Linked DNA regions of Homo sapiens. The protein of the gene in region 3 purifies or fractionates together with the protein of the main gene of each other region. This does not show direct contact. Each region holds a gene or a part of one and is shown on either strand. Other genes may lie near its edges.

What was found. The genes of interacting proteins can lie anywhere in the genome.
Region 1: the proteins of PGK1 (region 3) and RAB11FIP5 fractionate together in Homo sapiens (co-fractionation; one large-scale study listed by BioGRID). This does not show direct contact.
Region 2: the proteins of PGK1 (region 3) and MAPK13 purify together in Homo sapiens (co-immunoprecipitation; one large-scale study listed by IntAct). This does not show direct contact.
Region 4: the proteins of PGK1 (region 3) and AKR1A1 fractionate together in Homo sapiens (co-fractionation; one large-scale study listed by BioGRID). This does not show direct contact.

What each region holds. Positions count from the first base shown.
Region 1 is NC_000002.12:73,088,949-73,093,270, forward strand, and holds part of RAB11FIP5 (rab11 family-interacting protein 5), read right to left. Parts: intron 368-4,322; coding exon 1-367. UniProt on the Homo sapiens protein: Rab effector involved in protein trafficking from apical recycling endosomes to the apical plasma membrane. Involved in insulin granule exocytosis. May regulate V-ATPase intracellular transport in response to extracellular acidosis.
Region 2 is NC_000006.12:36,132,691-36,137,012, reverse strand, and holds part of MAPK13 (mitogen-activated protein kinase 13), read right to left. Parts: intron 1,261-4,322; coding exon 1,152-1,260; intron 995-1,151; coding exon 965-994; intron 530-964; coding exon 482-529; intron 358-481; coding exon 243-357; intron 135-242; coding exon 63-134; intron 1-62. UniProt on the Homo sapiens protein: Serine/threonine kinase which acts as an essential component of the MAP kinase signal transduction pathway.
Region 3 is NC_000023.11:78,107,223-78,112,367, forward strand, and holds part of PGK1 (phosphoglycerate kinase 1), read left to right. Parts: intron 1-2,644; coding exon 2,645-2,695; intron 2,696-5,145. UniProt on the Homo sapiens protein: Catalyzes one of the two ATP producing reactions in the glycolytic pathway via the reversible conversion of 1,3-diphosphoglycerate to 3-phosphoglycerate.
Region 4 is NC_000001.11:45,563,504-45,567,825, reverse strand, and holds part of AKR1A1 (aldo-keto reductase family 1 member A1), read right to left. Parts: intron 1,258-4,322; coding exon 1,138-1,257; intron 958-1,137; coding exon 806-957; intron 1-805. UniProt on the Homo sapiens protein: Catalyzes the NADPH-dependent reduction of a wide variety of carbonyl-containing compounds to their corresponding alcohols.

The DNA of each region.
Region 1 (4,322 bases), on a different chromosome or scaffold from region 3:
GGCCAAGCTCCCGCTGGCTGAGGACAGGGTGCTGTCCGAGCCCAGCGAGGTGTTGGACTGGGTCAGGGACGACTTGCGCAGCTTGTTGCGGAGGAAGAAGCCTTTGGCTTTGCCCATCTTGCCCAGGCTGCCCAGGTCAGGATCCTCTATGGCGCTGCTTGGGAGGATGGCAGAGGCAGATTCCAGATCATACTTCTTCTTGCCCTTCATCTTGTCCCTGATCTTGCTGAAGGGAGACCTTGGCTTGTCCTTCATGGACAGGTCAAACATACTGGCGCTCAGGTTGTTGCGCGTGAACTGGATGGTGACTTCAATCTCGCCGCGTTCCTTCTCCTTCTTGCCTGGCTTGGAGTGCAGCTTGTACCACCTGTGAGAAGAGGGGAGCAGGCAGAACTCAGTCACGGGCCCAGGGAGCCTGGCTCCCGCCCGGTACCAGGCACTGCCCAGACCCCTCCTTGCTCTGAGAGCCACTGATAGCCTCTCCCCAAAGGCTCCTGCTCTGACCCATCGGCCTGGGCTTCCAGGCTTCAGATGCAGCTGAGAAACTATCCAAAACATTTCCATGATGGAGAAAACCACATCCTGAGTGGGGAAGCTCCTCGGGTGCCACCAGGTAGGGCGGCGGTTACCACACCATGCCTCCTCCCACCCCAGGACCTTCTCCTGGTGCTCAGAGACCTCTCCTCTGCCCCATCTCCCCTACATCTGAAACTCTGAGGCCCAGAGGGGTGAGGCTGGGCCTGGGAGAGCCCTCCCATCTCCAGGCCCCAGCACAGACAGACCTACCCACATTTCTCCCTGTTGACATCATCTCCTCTGGCCAGTCCCAGCCAAAGCTCTGCTCCCAGCCACCGTGAGCCCAGGAAAGAACAGCTCACCCAGAGGCCCAGGGCCAGGAACACAGGAATGCTAGTGCATACACTCATGTATGTATACACACACACACACACACACACACACACACACACCTCACTCACACACTGACTCACCCCAAGCCCTGTCAGGAATACCTCTACAAGATGCAGGAACAGACAAGAATGGCAGAAAGAGACCCAGGAAAGACGAAGAGCGCTCATATCTGTTGAGCATCTATGGTGCATTACGACCAGCATGAGGGTTCTTACCTCACTCCCGCACATACCTCCCAAAAAGCATATGAGGTAAGAGGTACTACCCCATTGTACAGATCAGGAGGGTGAGGCTCAGTGGTAAAGGAACCCATCCGTGGAGACTCAGAGCCAGGTGTCCAGCCCTCCAAAGCTTAAGTTCTTCCCGGTGCACACCCACTGTGCCCAGAGAGACACAGAGACAGCCCCCAACACACATGGCCACCACACAGGGTGGCTGGGGCCCGCCCTACTGGGGAGAGATGTTCTTATGCAGGGGTTGGCAGTTTCTTAGAGAACTAAGCAAACTCCGATCACACAAGGAGCAATCACACTTCTTGGTACTTTGCCTACTGAGGTAAAGACTTATGTCCAAAGAAACACCCTGCACACAAATGTTTATAGCAGCTCTGTTCATGATTGCCAAAACTTGGAAGCTGCCAAGGTGTCCTCCAGTAGGTGAAAAGATAAGCAAACTGTGGTACATCCAGACAATGGAATACTACTTAATGATAAAAATAAATAGGCTATCAAGCCATGAACAGACACGGATGGATCTTACATACATAAGTGAAAGAAGACAATCTGAAAAGGCTTCATGCTTGCACGACAAAACTATTTGACATTCTGCAAAAGGCAAAACTATGGAGACAGTGAAAAGATCAGTGGTTGCTGGGGGATTGAAGAGAGGACAGAGCGATGAATAGGCAGAGCACAGGGACTTCTCAGGAGAGAAAAACTATCCTGCATGCTACCGTAATGGTGGACATGCATTGTTATACACCCACAGAATGCACAAAACAGCAAGTGAACCCTAACATAATGTATAGACTCTAGTTAACAATGACGTGTTGATATTGGCTCTCAAATACAACAAACATGCCACACTAATGCAAGATGTTAACAGAAGAAATGGCGGTGGGGGCGTGGGTGGAGTAGATGGGAACTCTCTATACTTTTCACTCGTTTTTCTGTAAACTTAAAACTGCTCTGAAAAATAGACTTTATTAACTAAAAAAAAGAGAGCAGGGAACACAAAAAGGAAGAAACTATGAAGGAAATCATACAAGAATGTTTTTCTGAACTGAAGAACATGAATGCTAGAACAGTCCTACAAGTATGCAGCGCAATGAACTAAGACAGACACATGCCAACAGATATGACTATGAGGCTTAGAACACCAGGCATGAAAGGATTCGAACAGCACTGGAGTCTTCCTTAGCAACACTGGGCACCACATGAAGGAATGTCTTCACATTTCTGAGGGAAAAGCCTTCCACTAGCCTGGAATTCCAGACCCAGCCAATCGAGCATGAAGGTGGAATAAAGCCCGGTGGTAGTGGTCAGGCTGGTCACTAAAGGGCTCAAAGTCCCTTGGTGACTGCACAGCACACACACACATACACACACACACACACGCACACAGAGCTACCCAAGCCGCAGTCAGTGATGCAGGATCCACCTCCCGCCTGAGCTCTGCCCCCAACAATGCCAGCTCCCTGAGCTTCTGGTGGACACAGAGTGGGGTGTGGGGAGCCTTTGTATGAAAAGTCCCTATACATCCAAAGATCCAGAATTAAGTCACAGCAAAAGCTTGGTGGTAGTGGTGGTAGTATTTTGATTATTTTTTAATGTTGAAGTTTTTTTAAAAAGGCTTCCTGGGGCACCTCTGACTCTTCTACATCCCTATAGAAGAGCCCATCATGACGAAATCCTGGTGGGCTATGGCCCGTCCCCTCCGTGGAGACCTACTCCGCAGCCTGAGCGGCCTGAGCCTAGACTTTGGTTTTCCCTCCCAAACCTGAGAGACAATCCCCTGAGAAGGCCGGGTAGGAACAGATGGTGCCACAGGCAGGGCGGACAGAGAAAATGCCCGAGCGGGTGCCTCTCTCATAAGGCACGGGCAGAAGTGAGGGGAGGAGAGGCTAATTGAGACAGACAGACTGGAGGATGTATGTGAGGGTGTCTGTGGGGCAGGAGAGGAAGTTTGACAGAAAGACCAGCCAGCAGCATCAACAGCCTCACACCTCTACGTTCTCAGCCCAGTGACCACCGTGGGCCTGACCCTTTACCTATTTAGAGGCCAAGCCCTAGTCACTTTCCCTAAATCTGGGCTAGGCCCTATCTAGCACAGGAAAGTCCTGGGAGGTAGGGCAAAAGAGAAGGGTATGGACTCCAGCCCCAAACCGCCCAAGCCCTGAGTAACTAGGATCAGCAAGCACAGCCAGCCTTTGCTGGGGCAGACAGGTCAGGGGCCCTCAGCCCCAGCTACTCACACTGCACACACCACAGCGGTAATGCAATTACCTGAGGGGACCGGGGCCCTGTGGTGAGATTGCAGGGAACTAGCACTTCCTACATTGTCTATTTTTGTCCTATTTGAATGTTTTATAAGGAGCATATATTACTGTGGTAATAGGAAAAAGAGACAAGGGAAAGCTCTTGCTCCTATCTCATCTCAGCTTCCTGAGCCACAAAATGGGCCGTGCTCCTCTGCCTCCCAGCCCTCAGAGGAAGGCGGGAGGCCGAGTTTCAGGTCCTTTGCCACAAGGACCTTTTGGGCCTCTCTCCCCTATAAGGTCACTTCCCCTTCTCCTGTTCTGCCCAGCCCTCCCCCACAGGGAATTTGGGTTTCTCCCTGGACTTGTTTTTCAAGGAAGCACGGAAGGAAAAAGAAAAAGCTTCCCTGAATATTTTTTAGGCTCTCCCATCCAGAGCACAGTGAAATGGAGAATGGCCAGGACCTACCTCTGGACCCCAGCTGCCATCACTCGTCCACCTCCCTTCCAGCCCCACCTCCCTCTGCAACCCAGTCAAGGGCAGGACTGAATGGGATACTGCCTGGCACCTTGGCCACCCTGGGCACCCCAGGGACTCAACCAGAGCAGACCTTCTCCCAGAAGTATGGCCTACATGAGCTGAGATGGCCACATCCTCCCCCTCCCTAGAGGTGCTACTTCCCTGTGCCTGGACCAGACAGCCCCACAGACCTGTCGGGCACCATGGAGGTCCACTGGAGAATGGAAAACTATGAACACTGTCGAGGGGGGCTGAGGAATCCGCAATGAAAACAAATGGAGGCTTTCTTTTCACAGAGCCCCACACGCAGCAGAGCAAATGGGCTCTGAGCACCTCATCCCTAGAGACTGAAGCCCCCACGGGGAATATGACAGCAGGGTCCTATGACCTAGTTCAAGTCCCACTCCTCTGGGAAGC
Region 2 (4,322 bases), on a different chromosome or scaffold from region 3:
ATAAAGTGTCTGTTGAAGGAAGGAATCCCTAGATGGAGTTTGGCTTTTCCAGCAAAGGATACAATCTTTCCCCTTGAACAGAGTTTTCCCTGTCAGCATCTCTGCCATGATACAGCCCACAGACCAGATGTCCACTGCAGAGGGAGGGAGAGTGTCACCTGGACTGTCTGGGGCCCAGCAGTCAGTCAGCACCGAGTGACCAGATGGCCCCAGGACCGCCCTCTCAGGCATTGACCACTGACCTGTCTGGTTGTAGTGCATCCAGCTGAGGATCACCTCGGGGGCTCGGTACCAGCGGGTCACCACGTAGCCAGTCATCTCGGCGTCTGCATGTCGCGCCAGCCCAAAATCCAGAATCTATGGCACAGGGGATAAATAGAAAAGGAACTTGCTGAGGGGAGGAGGCTCTGGGAGCGGCTTCCAGGGGCTTCCCTGGGGGAGGGCCTATCCCGCCTCTGGGCTGAGCCTGCAGCCCACTCACCTTCAGTTCACAGTCCTCATTCACAGCCAGGTTGCCTGGCTTCAGGTCCTGGGGGGAGGACAGAGAATGCATGCTAGGCTGAGGCAGAGATGGAGCTTGTCCTAGCTCCACCACCACCCAGGGGTGTGACCTCAGCCAGGCCCCTTCCCCTTCTGGGCCTCAGTTTCTTCATGTGTAAAATGAGGGTTGGACTAGGTGTTCTCTCAGGGCCCACCCAGCTCTAAAATGTTCCTGATTCTTGAAGCCTGAAACACTCAGCTCAGGGCTCACTTTGTCTGCAGCAATTCCCCATGAAGTCCCCTGGGACACAGTGACTCTTTTGAGCAGGCCTTCCTGGGCCGTGGCTGGGTGTGAAAACTCCACATTCTGTGCTCCTGGGCAGTGTCCCCTCCCTCCAACTTTCCCACTCCTTGATTGCCAGAGAACCCCATACCCAGGGATGGGACAGGGGCCTCTGAGGACCATGGCAGAGAAAGCACTCACCCTGTGCACGACCCCAGCAGAGTGGATGTACTATGTGGGAGAGAGAGAAGGGTGAGTCCATGGCCCAGCTTCCACACCAGGCACTTCAGGCTGGCCGACCTGTAACAGTGCGCTCCCTCCAGCCTCCCCAAACCTCAGGTCTAGACAGCAAGGCGTCCCCTCTGCCAGCCTCCAAGTCCCCACCCACCTTAAGGCCTTTGAGCATCTGATACACCAGGTACTGGATCTTCTCCTCACTGAACTCCATCCCCATGATCTTCTGCAGATCCGTCTGCATGAAGGGCATCACCAGGTAGCTGGAAGGCATGAGGGGTTCTTGGAACAGTGCCGGGTCCCACCCAGCCCCAGGTCAGAGCTCAGAGGAGGGACCTCAGGGCAGAACAGGGGTCATAGAGACACCCTCCAGTGTGCAAAAACTCAACTCCACCTCAGCCAGCCAGATCACCACACGGGCCTCTGGGCTCCTGGCTCCCAGTCTCCCTGTGGCGGGCCGCCCAGCTGGCAGAGCTCGGAGTAAGCGCTGCAGTTGGAGCGCGCTCAGGAAAGCCACATGGAACTGTGTTCCCGCTCTTCAAAGGTACTCTCTCCTTGCCCTCCTCCACACCCCAGGGAAAGCCACAGCTAGGAGTTAGAAACATCTGCCAGTATTTCCTTCGGCTTCTGTCCAAATATTTGATCCCTCAGAGGGTCATGCCCAGCTGAGATGGCTCCACAAACAAACAATATGTCTACCTTTCCAAGAAGGAAACAATACAACAGTTTCCAGGAGGGTGGAAGAGGGAGATGGGGAGGCTCCTGCAGCCTCTTAGGGGATTGCACAACAGGATAAGGCCAGCAAAATGTAACTGTTACAGTAAAAGCAAAGACCAGGACAAAGACAAAAAATAATAAAAATTATAAAATAGGCCAGGGGCATACCTCCAATCCCAGTGCTTTGGGAGATGGAGGCTGGACGATCGCTTGAGGCGAAGAGTTTAAGACCAGCCTGAGCAACATAGGGACCCATCTTTCTTTCTTCCTTTCTTTTTTTCTTTGAGATGGAGTCTTGCTCTGTCGCCCAGGCTAGAGTGCAGTGGCGTGATCTTGGCTCACTGCAACCTCCACCTCCCAGGTTCAAGCGATTTTCCTGCCTCAGCTTCCCTGAGTAGCTACAACTACAGGTGCACGCCAGAACGCCCAGCTAATTTTTGTATTCTTAGTAGAGACGGGGTTTTGCCATGTTGGCCAGGCTGGTCTCGAACTCCTGACCTCAGGTGATCTGCCTGCCTCGGCTTCCCAAAGTGCTGGGATTACAGGCGTGAGCCACCATGCCCGGCCTGGACCCCACCTTTCAGAAAAAAAAAAAAAAATTAGCCAGGTGTGGTGGCATGCACCTTTAGTCTTAGCTACTCAAGAGGCTGAGGTGGGAGGATCACTTGAGGCCGGGAATTCGAGATCAGGATGAGTAACATAGTGAGACCCCATATCTATAAAAATTAAAACAAAACAAAAAGCTGGACATGGTGGCATGCATCTGTAGTCCCACCTACTTGGGGGGCTGAGGCGGGAGGATGGCTTGAGCCTAGGAGTTGGAGGCTGCAGTGAACTGTGTTTGTGCCACTGCACTCCAGTCTGGGCAACCCAGCCCTATCTCTAGAATATAATAAATTTAAAACTTTTTTAAAATGAATGTTACCTTAAACAATTATGTAATAGGTTGTGTTTTTTGTTGTTGTTGTTGTTGTTGTTTTTGAAAGGACATGCTGGAGGCATCTCCAGGAGACTCTGGATTTTGGCAGCCCTCTCCTGCCGGACCACACACCTCCCTTGGGGGCCTCTCCATGCCCAGTCCCCTCCTGTGTCTTTCCCCTCCACTCGGGCACTGGTTCTTTCATCTTGGCAACATGCTTCCTGAAGCCTCTCTGTGCTAGAACCACATTCCCTTGACTTTGCTTCTTCAACTGACCACCCCTTCTCCCTCTCTCACCACCAAACTTCTAGAAAGGGCGGTCCACACTCCTGGATCCCACTGCCTTACCTCCCAGTCCTGAGTTAACCTGGTTTCTGCTTCCCTCCTACTGCCAGACTGCTCAGCTCAAGGTCACCAGTGAACACCCGACAAACACACCATGACTCCCTTTTCTTCTGATCTAACCTTTCACCAAGTCTGAAACTCCCTCTCAATTCTTTGCTGACTCTCCTCTGCCTCCTATCAGGCCCTCTCAGCTTCTTCCATCTGCTCATCCTCTTGGATCTTCTCTTTCATGTTGATATCTGAATCAATACTATCTTACCACATTCTACAATTATCTGTTCCCGGGTGTCAGCTATAACCCATCGGTGATTATTCCAGCACAAATCCACATCCCTAGCCCAGACCTTCGTCTCCTGAGGTTCATATTTATTTGCAACTGTGATTAAACATTGGAATGTTCACAGTTTCTTTAAAAGTAAAGTGTCCAAAATGGAGTTCGTTATCTTTCCCCCAAGATCTGTTCTTCCTCTACCGTGTATTTCAAGCAGGAACCTGCCCATTCCTCCACCTCTGCCACCTCACTCAGCTACTGCACCCCAACAGATGGAACATTGTGTCGGCCCTGCCTCCCAAATGGGGCCTCAAGTCTGCTCTTGGCATCCCATCACCTCTGCTTTAGATCCCTACTTTAGATCACTAACACTGACCTCCAGGCTCTCCCCCTCTGCCTCCGAGCTGCTTCCTACTCCTTTCTTGCTGCTGCCAGTGTGCATCCCCCAAATCCCATCTGAACATATCACCTCCCGGCTCAAAGTCCCCAGGTCTTGAGGCTGCCTGTAGGGTCAGTCCAGATTCAGCTTGACCAAGCCAGCTGCTGGCCTCCACGTGCCACACTGACTTCTCCATCTTGTCCAAATAGTCCAGTCTCATTCAGACACTGCACAGGCAAAGCTATACATTTTGCAGCTAAATATTCTGGTTTTCTGCCATTCTGTCAAACACCCCCATCAGCCAGAGGCAGCCAAGGCTTCTTAATCCTTGCTTCATGCTAGAAAGAGCTCCAAGGTCCAGACTCACATCTGTGTCCCCAGGAAAGGTGAGTTGGTGCTAACCCTGTGAGGACTGGCAGATGTGTCTTCATGGTGTTAAAGCTGGGTAAAAAGCAAAGCAGCTGTGCAGACTGCCCCCTGCCAGGCAAGCACCCCACAAAGTCCTTCCTGCCTCTTCCTGCCTGCCTTTGGCTAAAAGCATCTTTCCAGAGAGAATCACACTTGACAGGCAAAGGCACAGGACTGCCAGGGAAGGAGGCTCTCCCCGCCACACCCGGAATAGAAACCCTAGACCCTCCCCCACCTTGCTCCCCAGCGGCATGTAAGGCCTGCAAATGCCCCAGAACCCAGTGCA
Region 3 (5,145 bases):
TACCTAATTATAGAACAATATCAAAAGTAGGAAATTGACATTGGTATAAAGTGTGTATGGTTCTATGCCATTTTATTACGTGCGTAGATTTGTGTAACCGCCACCACAATCAAGATACAGAACTATTAGATCACCACCAAGATCTCCTTCATGCTACCTCTTTATAATAATAACCACCCCCCTTCCTGACTCCTGGTAACTACTGATCTGTCCACTGTTTCTAAAATTTTGTCACTTCAAAAATACTATACAGATTGAATCACATGGTATATAACCTTTTGGGATTAACTTTTTTCACTTAGCATAATGTCCTCAAAATTTATCCACATTGTCACATGTATCAAAAGTTCATACCTGTGTATTGCTGAGTAGTATTCCATGGTGTGGTTGTATTATAGTTTGTTTAACTATCATTGAAGGATATTAGGGTTGTTTCTGATTTGGGGCTATTACAAATACAGCTGCTGTGAACATTTGTATACAAGTCTTGGTATGGACATACGCTGTCATTTTTCATGGGTAAACACCTAGGAGTGGAATTGCTGGGCCACGTCCTTTTGAGGTATCCCCAGACTGTTTTCCAAGGTGGCTGCAGCATTTCACATTTCTACCAGCAGTATTTGAGTAATCAGTTTCTCTGCTTCATTACCAGCTATTTTAGTTATTTTTCGTTCTGATGGATATGTAGTAATAACTGACTTTGTGCCTGAAGCAAAGCTCAGGGGTGTTATAAGGAAACGAAAAAAAAAAAAAAGAAAATTGTGCATATTTTATGTAAAATGGAACAAGTAGAATCTGTAGGCAAGAGCAGTTCCTGTGTTGGAGTCCTCTGAGGAGAAGCTAAAAGCAGAGCTGTTGTGAGTGTAGGAGATAAGGGGAGGTAATCCAGAGGGCATTGAGGAGAGAGTATCAACCAAGTCTAATTCATTAGTAAGCTGACACCATGGCAGCTTGGATAGATGAGACAGTTTCTTAGGTGTCTCTGTCCAAAGATATTCCTCCCTGTAAGGGTTGGGGGTAGAGAGTAGCACTGCAAGAAGTGGCTTGTGCCCATCCTTTTGCCATTAGTCCTTTTGAGCATAGGCCTTCTGGGAGGTTGCATGGGGGAAAATGACCCATGGTAATGGGATATTCTCTCTTCTTTGGAATGTACTTTAAGGCTGGCAGGCTCCTTGTTCAGGATATTTAAAGAAGACAGAGAATCAAGTGGCCTGAAACAAAGTAGAGTGTATTTCTTTCATCAGAGGCTTACTGCCTTTAATTTTGAAGACTTTAAAACATGTTTTACTATAGAATTATTTTTCCTCAGCCTACCTTTGGAAAGGCTGTTCTTCAGTGAGGTAGATTGGAGTTCAGGCCTAGTGGATATAGGAAATTGGTGGTCTTCTCAGTATGTCTGTAGGAGTTTGTAATTGCCTTAGCCTTAGAGAGGAAGGGGTATTTAAAAAGGCAGAGGAAAAAGATGGAGGCTTATAATCAAGGATAGCAGCAGTCTTCTTGATTAGGTCATACTTCACTGTAGTCCCTTTGCAAGTGATGTTAGCTGTTTTTAGTAGTGGTTGATTTACTTGTCAAATCACAGAATTACATTTTGGAGAAACATATAACAACAACACTTTTATGGCATTTACTGTGTGTCAGGTACACTTCTAAGCACTTTACAAATTGCTGACTTACTAATTCTCTCAGTAACTACGAGGTAGATACTGTCATCCCGATGAGAAAAAAATCACTTAAAAATAATCATGGCAGGCACAACTCTTAAACCTTAAAAATAGCTGCCATACATTATTGTTTTCATTCACATTGAAGTAGGCTGAGGTTCCAAGGAGTTCAGAATAATTGGTTCTTAAGAATGATAACATAGTAATCTGTTGGGTAAGAGATACTGCAGTACATTATTTTCTTGTGTCGTCTTGATTACTTCCCTTCTAATTTGCCTGTTTGTCAGGTGGGCTGGGGCACATGTCCCACCCTCTCTTCTCAGGCTTTTTGAAAGAGGCTGTCTTATGTTGTGTGTATTGCTTGAAGGACCCCTAGTCTTAAGGCCCCAGGCTTTCTCCAAAAAGAATGATTTTCTCTTAGTGTGTTTTATTTTTATTTTAATTTTTTTCTCGAGTCATGTTAGTTTCACGAGGACCCAGAAATAGTATCAAGGGAATTAGGATCAAGATGCATTCCTTATTATTCCTCACCCCTCTAGCTGCTACCCGGATACTATTGTGCCAGGCCCAGACAGATATCTTTTTAGGTGGAACTAGCTTTAGCTTCCCAGATCTTCAGGGCTAGTTCCTGTGATTTAAGTTAGGTTTTTTTTTTAAAATTCTTTTTAAAGTATGAATACATACCTAAAAGGGCACAAATCACAAGTTCAAAGAATTACCACAAAATGAGCACATTTGTATGGTCACTGAGGTTAAGAGATAGAACATTACCAGAACCCCAAAGCCTCTGGTGTCGTTATCCCAGTCACCACTCCCGCCATCCTCCCCATGACTAACCACTATTTTGACTTTTAATGCCACTGATTATTTTTAAGATGAGATTTGAATTTCTGACTTATTTAACTGGTTCATTAAAAATGCATCTCCTAGTCTTTGATGGAACAGTAAGTTGATCATGGTCTTGCATCTTTCTTTTTTAGAGTCGACTTCAATGTTCCTATGAAGAACAACCAGATAACAAACAACCAGAGGTAAGGTCCCTGCTAATCCTTGGGCTGGGTTTAAGATGTGTGTAGGTACACAGGATGAAATGTTTTTCCTTTCATATTGTATTATGGAACTGTAGCAACTTAAAACAAATGATTTTGGCTTTCTATCAACCCACTCTCTGATCTGCTTTCTTATTTATGAGAATATACAAATATAAGCAAAATCTTAAGAAAGTGATTCCCCTTCCCTTGTTTTTTGAAAATTAGAAGAATTTGGAGTTCATTTTCTTTTTTTGAGATAGGGTCTCACTCTGTCACCCAGACTGGAGTGTAGTGGTGTGATCACGGTTCACTGCAGCCTTAACCTTCTGGGCTCAAGCAGTCCTCTGGCCTCAGCTTCCCGAGGAGCTGGAACAACAGGTGCACACCACTACACCTGGTTAAATTAAAAAAAAATTTTTTTTTGTAGAGATGGGGTCTCACTATGTTGCCTAGGCTGTTCTCAAACTCCTGGACTCAAGTGATCCTCCTGCCTTGGCTTCCTAAAGTGCTGGGACCACAGGTGTAAGCCCCCATACCTGGCAGAGTTATTCATTTTTAAAGAATATAAAAGTTGGCTGGGTGCGGTGGCTCACATCTGTAATCCCAGCACTTTGGAAGGCCGAGGCAGGAGGATTGCTTGAGGCCAGTAGTTCGAGAACAGCCTGGCCAATATAGTAAGACACCATCTCTATAAAACACACACAAAAAATATAAAAATTTAAGGTTACTTGGCTTCTCTTGCAAAATGAAGAACTATGTAAGAGAAGGATTTTAAAAGTACCAGTAGTTACTAAGGTTATATGTAGTTTTACAAGCCCCCATTCAAATGGCTCAGATAAGTCAATTTTTGAGAATTTTCATTTGTTTTTGCTTCCAAAAAAACAAACAGGAAAGACTTCAGAAGTACGTTTTCAGTCAGTTTAGCTGCTCCAGTGTCTTGGATCCTAGATTCAGAAACAAATTTTAAGTGAGAGTACTGCTCTTGCTTTTGACTAGATTATAAAAGGTCTTTATTTTTGTCTTTACTTTCTTTTTAATTTTTTTAATTTTTAATTTTTGTAGATTTTATATATATATATATATGGGTTACATGAGATATTTTGATAAAAGCATGCAATACATAATCACATCAGGTTAAATGGGGTATCCATCAAGAAGGTTTTTATTTAATTTTTTTTTTTTTTTGAGACAGGGCCTCGTTCTGTCGCCCAGGCTGGAGTGCAGTGGCACGATCTTGGCTCACTGCAATCTCTGCCTCCTGGGCTCAAGCGATCCTCCCATCTCAGCCTCCCAGGGAGCTGAGACCACAGGCGTGGGCCACCACACCTGGCTACTTTTTCATATTTTTTTTGTAGAGACAGCGTTTTGCCCTTTTGCCCAAGCTGGCCTTGAGCTCCTGGACCCCGCCCACCTTGGCCTCCCAAAGTGCTGGGAATACAGGCATGAGTCACTGTGCTCCGCCTATTTTAAATTTTAAATGAAGGGTTTGTGTTGGCAAGGTGCTTTCTAATGATCTAGACCAGTGGTATCTAATAGAAATACAATGTGAGCCAAATTGTGTTAATTAAATTAAAGGGACATTTAACTTTTTTGGTACTAAGTCTTCAAGATCTGGCATGTGTTTTTATACTACAGCACATCTCAATTTGATCTAGTTATATATCTGGTACTCAACAGACACACATGACTAAATGACTGTCGTAATGGACAGTGCAGGTCTAGCCCAGAACATTTTCAGGTATTGGTCCTAGAATAGAGCCTGTCATTTTGCCAAGCACATCCCTGCTGTACCATAGTGGCAGGGTCTTTGTATAAGGCAGATCTGATCCCGCTTGATCTTCATTATTGTGCAACACACAGAAACGATTGGAAATATGCCTATCAAGTTATTTTAAGAGTAAAGAAACATGTTTGGAAATCTTTTCATTTCCGGAAATCCATGGAGTTGATTAACAAAATGAAGCATTAGAAATAATAAAACTTGCTGATAAGGGATAGTCCTGAAAACTAATTGGTTCCATTGCACAAACTTTGTACCTGATACAGATTTTTAAATTTGATATAAAGGAGTTCTTATATCTGCTAAATATTAATAACATAAGATATTTTAAAAGTATAACTTTTTTAATCATTCCATTCTTTGCTCAGATGTCATCATATCAGACTTTCCCTGGCCATCCTGTCTAAAAATCTCCTCTACCATTGTTCCCCGGTCATTTTTGTCCTCAAAAGTAGGGGAACAAAAATGGGGAACAATGGTTTGTTTTTTTTCTGTATCTCACCATCTGATATATTACATGTACGCACACACACATACATGTTTATTGTCTCTCTCCATTAGAATTTCACTTCCATGAGAACAGAGAGTTTTTAAAAAAGTTTTCTGTTTCATTCTCAGAACCTGGAATGATGCCTGGCACAAAAGAAGCATTCAATAAATATTTGATGAA
Region 4 (4,322 bases), on a different chromosome or scaffold from region 3:
AGATGGAGTCTCGCTTTACCGCCCAGGCTGGAGTGCAGTGGCACTATCTCAGCTCACTGCAAGCTCCACCTCCTGGGTTCACGCCATTCTCCTGCCTCAGCCTCCCCAGTAGCTGGGACTACAGGCGCTCACCACCACGCGCAGCTAATTTTTTGTATTTTTAGTAGAGACGGGGTTTCACCGTGTTAGCCAGGATGATCTCGATCTCCTGACCTCGTGATCCGCCCGCCTTAGCCTCCCAAAGTGCTGGGATTACAGGCGTGAGCCACCGCGCCTGGCCAAAAAAAGCCATGCTTTTTCATCCTTCCAGATCGTAACCCAGGTGTTAAGTTTACATGGAATGCCTATGCCCCCTCCTCTTCCTAGACGTAGATATCTCCTCTCCCCTAGGAAGTCTTCCTTAACTCATCCTCAGGGAGTTATCCACCCTTCTTCCAGCACAGGGCACGGCACTAATGGTGAGCTCTTCTCACATCTTCTGCTGAGACTTACTTATTACTGTAACCCCAGGTGCTCAACAGAAAAGTCAGCACCTTTTCTAAATGAATAAAGGGAGCAGGAGGGTTACAGGTGCATACCCTGGGGTACACACCATGTGAGACTGCCTTCCTTTTTCCAGAGTTAAACTCCTGTAGCTACAGCTAAGCTGCTGTAGCAGAAGAGGCTAAGATCCCATGTCAAGCTCCTCAGCTTGGCATGCAAATGAGTGTTCCTATCCTGCTCTGCTGCTGTGACTTACAATAAGTTACTAACACCATCCTGCTCAACCCCCTGATTCCCCAGATGAGGCTCTGGCAAGGCTCACTCAAAGGCATAAGGCCAGTGCATCAGGTACAGGTCCAGATACTCCAGCTGGAGGTCAGCCAGAGTCTTCCGGAGGGCAGGCTCCACATCCTCGGGGTGGTGCTTGGTGTTCCACAGCTTGGATGTCACAAACAGCTCCTCCCGAGGCACCGCCTAGTGCAGGGGGCAGGGCCCACAGTGAGAAGAGCCATGAGCACGTGGTCTCACCCACCCTCAACTCTGGGAGAGGAACTGGAAGGAAGCTGATGCCAGATTCCCTCCAGCTGGGCCCCAGCCCTAGCTTCAGCTTCTAAGTTCTCTTATCCCACCTCTATTTACAACCCCAGTCCTTACCTTGCCTGGTCCCACGTCCTCCTTCAGGGCCTCCCCAATCTCAGGCTCATTGCCGTAGATAGCAGCACAATCAATGTGGCGGTAGCCTACGCTAAGGGCATACTTAACAGCTGCTTTTACCTGCCAGGTGAGAGAAGCAGAGGTTTCAGCTATGTTGGTTTCAGCCTTCTACTGTCACCACCCCAAGGTCAATGCTGGGGGAAGGGGGCTCAGAAATATAACAGGCACATCTATGCAGTGGAGGTGAAAAGATGGAAGATGAACTGGGCGCGGTGGCTCACGCCTGTAATCCCAGCACTTTGGGAGGCTGAGGTGGGCAGATCCCCTGAGGTCAGGAGTTCGAGACCAGCCTGGCCAGCTGGAGGTCAGCCTGGCCAACATGGTGAAACCCCATCTCTGCTAAAAATACAAAATTAGCCAGGTGTGGTGGCAGGTGCCTGTAATCCCAGCTACTCAGGAGGCTGAGGCAGGAGAATCACTTGAACCCAGGAGGCAGAGGTTGCAGTGAGCTGAGATTGTGCCACTGCACTTCAGCCTCGGCAACAAGAGCGAAACTCCATCTCAAAACAAAGAAAGAAAAAAAAAAAGATGGAAGATGGTTTCAGTCTAAGGGACCAGAAGCCTCTTCAGAGGCTCCAAACCCTTTGCTCTGCTCCCACCCCAACCAGTCTCTAAGATGCCTTCCTACCCAAGCCATCTCAGCAAGGTCTAGCAAAAACTAACAATATTTTCCCGGCATCTACCATAAAGAGGGCTTCAGTAAATATTTTTTCAGGCTGAGCACAGTGGCTCACGCCTGTAATCCTAGGACTCTGGGAGGCTGACATGGGAGCATTGCTTGAAGGCAGAAGTTCAAGACCAGCCTAGTCAACATAGTGAGACCCCCACCTCTTTAAAAAAAAAAAAAAAATTAAGGCCAGGCGTGGTGGCTCACGCCTATAATCCCAGCACTTTGGGAAGAAGAGGCAGGTGAATCACCTGAGGTCAGGGGTTTGAGACCAGCCTGGCCAACATGGTGAAATTCTTTTCTCTACTAAAAATACAAAAATTAGCTGTGCATGGTGGCATATGCCTGTAGTCCCAGCTACTCAGGAGGCTGAGATAGGAGAATCGCTTGAACCCAGGCGGGGGAGGCTGCAGTGAGCTGAGATCATGCCACTGCACTTCATCCTGGGCGAGACAGAGTGAGACTCCGTCTCAAAAAAACACAAAAAAAATAACAACAAAAAATTGAAAACAAATTTTTTTTTTTAAATAAAAGCCAGGCGCGGTGGCTCACACCTGTAATCCCAGCACTTTGGGAGGCCGAGGTGGGTGGATCACCTGAGGTCGGGAGTTTGAGACCAGCCTAACCAACACGGAGAAACCCCGTCTCTACTAAAAATACAAAATTAGCTGGGCGTGGTGGTGCATGCCTATAATCCCGGGTACTTGGGAGGCTGAGGCAGGAGAATCGCTTGAACCTGGGAGGTGGAGGTTACAGTGAGCCAAGATCATGCCATTGCACTCCAGCCTGGGCAACAAGAGTGAAACTCCTTCTCAAAAAAAAAAAAAAAAAAAAAAAAATGGCTGGGTGTGGTGGCTCACGCCTGTAGTCCCAGCACTTTGGGAGGCTGAGGTGGGTGGATCATGAGGTCAGGAGATCGAGACCATCCTGGCTAACACGGTGAAACACCGTCTCTACTAAAAATACAAAAAATTAGCTGGGCGTGGTAGGGGGTGCCTGTAGTCCCAGCTACTCAGGAGGCTGAGGCAGGAGAATGGTGTGAACCTAGGAGGCGGAGCTTGCAGTGAGGCGAGATTGCGCCACTGCACTCCAGCCTGGGCGACAGAGCAAGACTCCATCTCAAAAATAAAATTAAATAAATAAATAAATAAATAAAAATTTAAAAATTTTCAAAAATAAATAATTTTTTTTTTCAATCAGAAGACAGATGGATAAATAGAGAAAAGAAGTATAGACCATGGAAACAAGTTCCAGGTTCTAAGGAGCTGGTTAGAGAAACACAGGAAAAAATTCCTAGGCCAAGGACATACAGGGAGTTGTGTAGACAGACTCTGGGAACTCTGGGAGCACAGGCCAGCAAAAGAGGTTAGAAGGGGGAAAAGATTAAGGAAGGCAGATAAGTAGGCTGAAAGCTGGAGGCAGATAAGTGGGCTAAAAGCTGGACCCAGAACTCCCTAATGAGAGAGAAGAAAACAGGCATCAGATAGAAGGATGGGTCAGTTAATTTTGCTAAAATCCAGACTGGAAACACGGCATCAGCAGCAGAAACAAGGGTACCCGGCCCTAGACACAAAGCACCCAAAGCTCTTGTTGTGGGTGCCTGACATAGTATTCAAGATCCCCACCCGGGTGCCGACGTACTTCCCCTAACATCTGACCCCTGCTGTTCCATGCCCCGCCTTGGCCTTGTCTGTGGCCCCCAACCCTCTGCCTTGACCTAGCTCCTGGACTTCTCCGAGGCTGTGAGAAGTGCCTGCCTAAAGCACAGGGACCCTGGCTCCAGGCTCCTTGGCAGCTATAGGAAAGAAAGCAAAAGGGAAAAGAGACACAGGTCATCCAAGCACACCACAAACATCAGTCTAAATCCCAGATAGAAGAATCTGTTCTCTCTGCTGGGGCTTCTCTGAAACTTAATCCCCAAACTTCTCTTCACTCTGACTCAAGATTTCCAAGGAAGAAGGAAGAAGCCCTGGGGAAATGCCCCATTCCAGGCAGGAGCCAAATCTCATAGCTACGTCCACCCTGAGAGAGCAGGTCCATATTCCCAGACTCCCCTCAGCTGGGATGGTCTACACCAGGGGTCAGTCAATTATCAACTTTAACAGTTCTTGAGTTAAGAACTACATTTATATTTTTAAGTGGTTACTTATTTATTTTATTATTATTTTTCTTGGGACGCAGTTTTGCTCTTGTTGCCCAGGCTGGAGTGCAATGGCACGATCTCGGCTCACTGCAACCTCCGCCTCCCGGATTCAAGTGATTCTCCTGCCTCAGACTCCTGAGTAGCTGGGATTACAGGCATGCACCACCACGCCTGGCTAATTTTGCATTTTTAGTAGAGATGAGGTTTCTCCGTGTTGGTCAGGCTGGTCTCGAACTCCCAACCTCAGGTGATCCGCCTGCCTCAGCCTCCCAAAGTGCTGGGATTACAGGCATGAGCCACCACACCCAGCTTAAG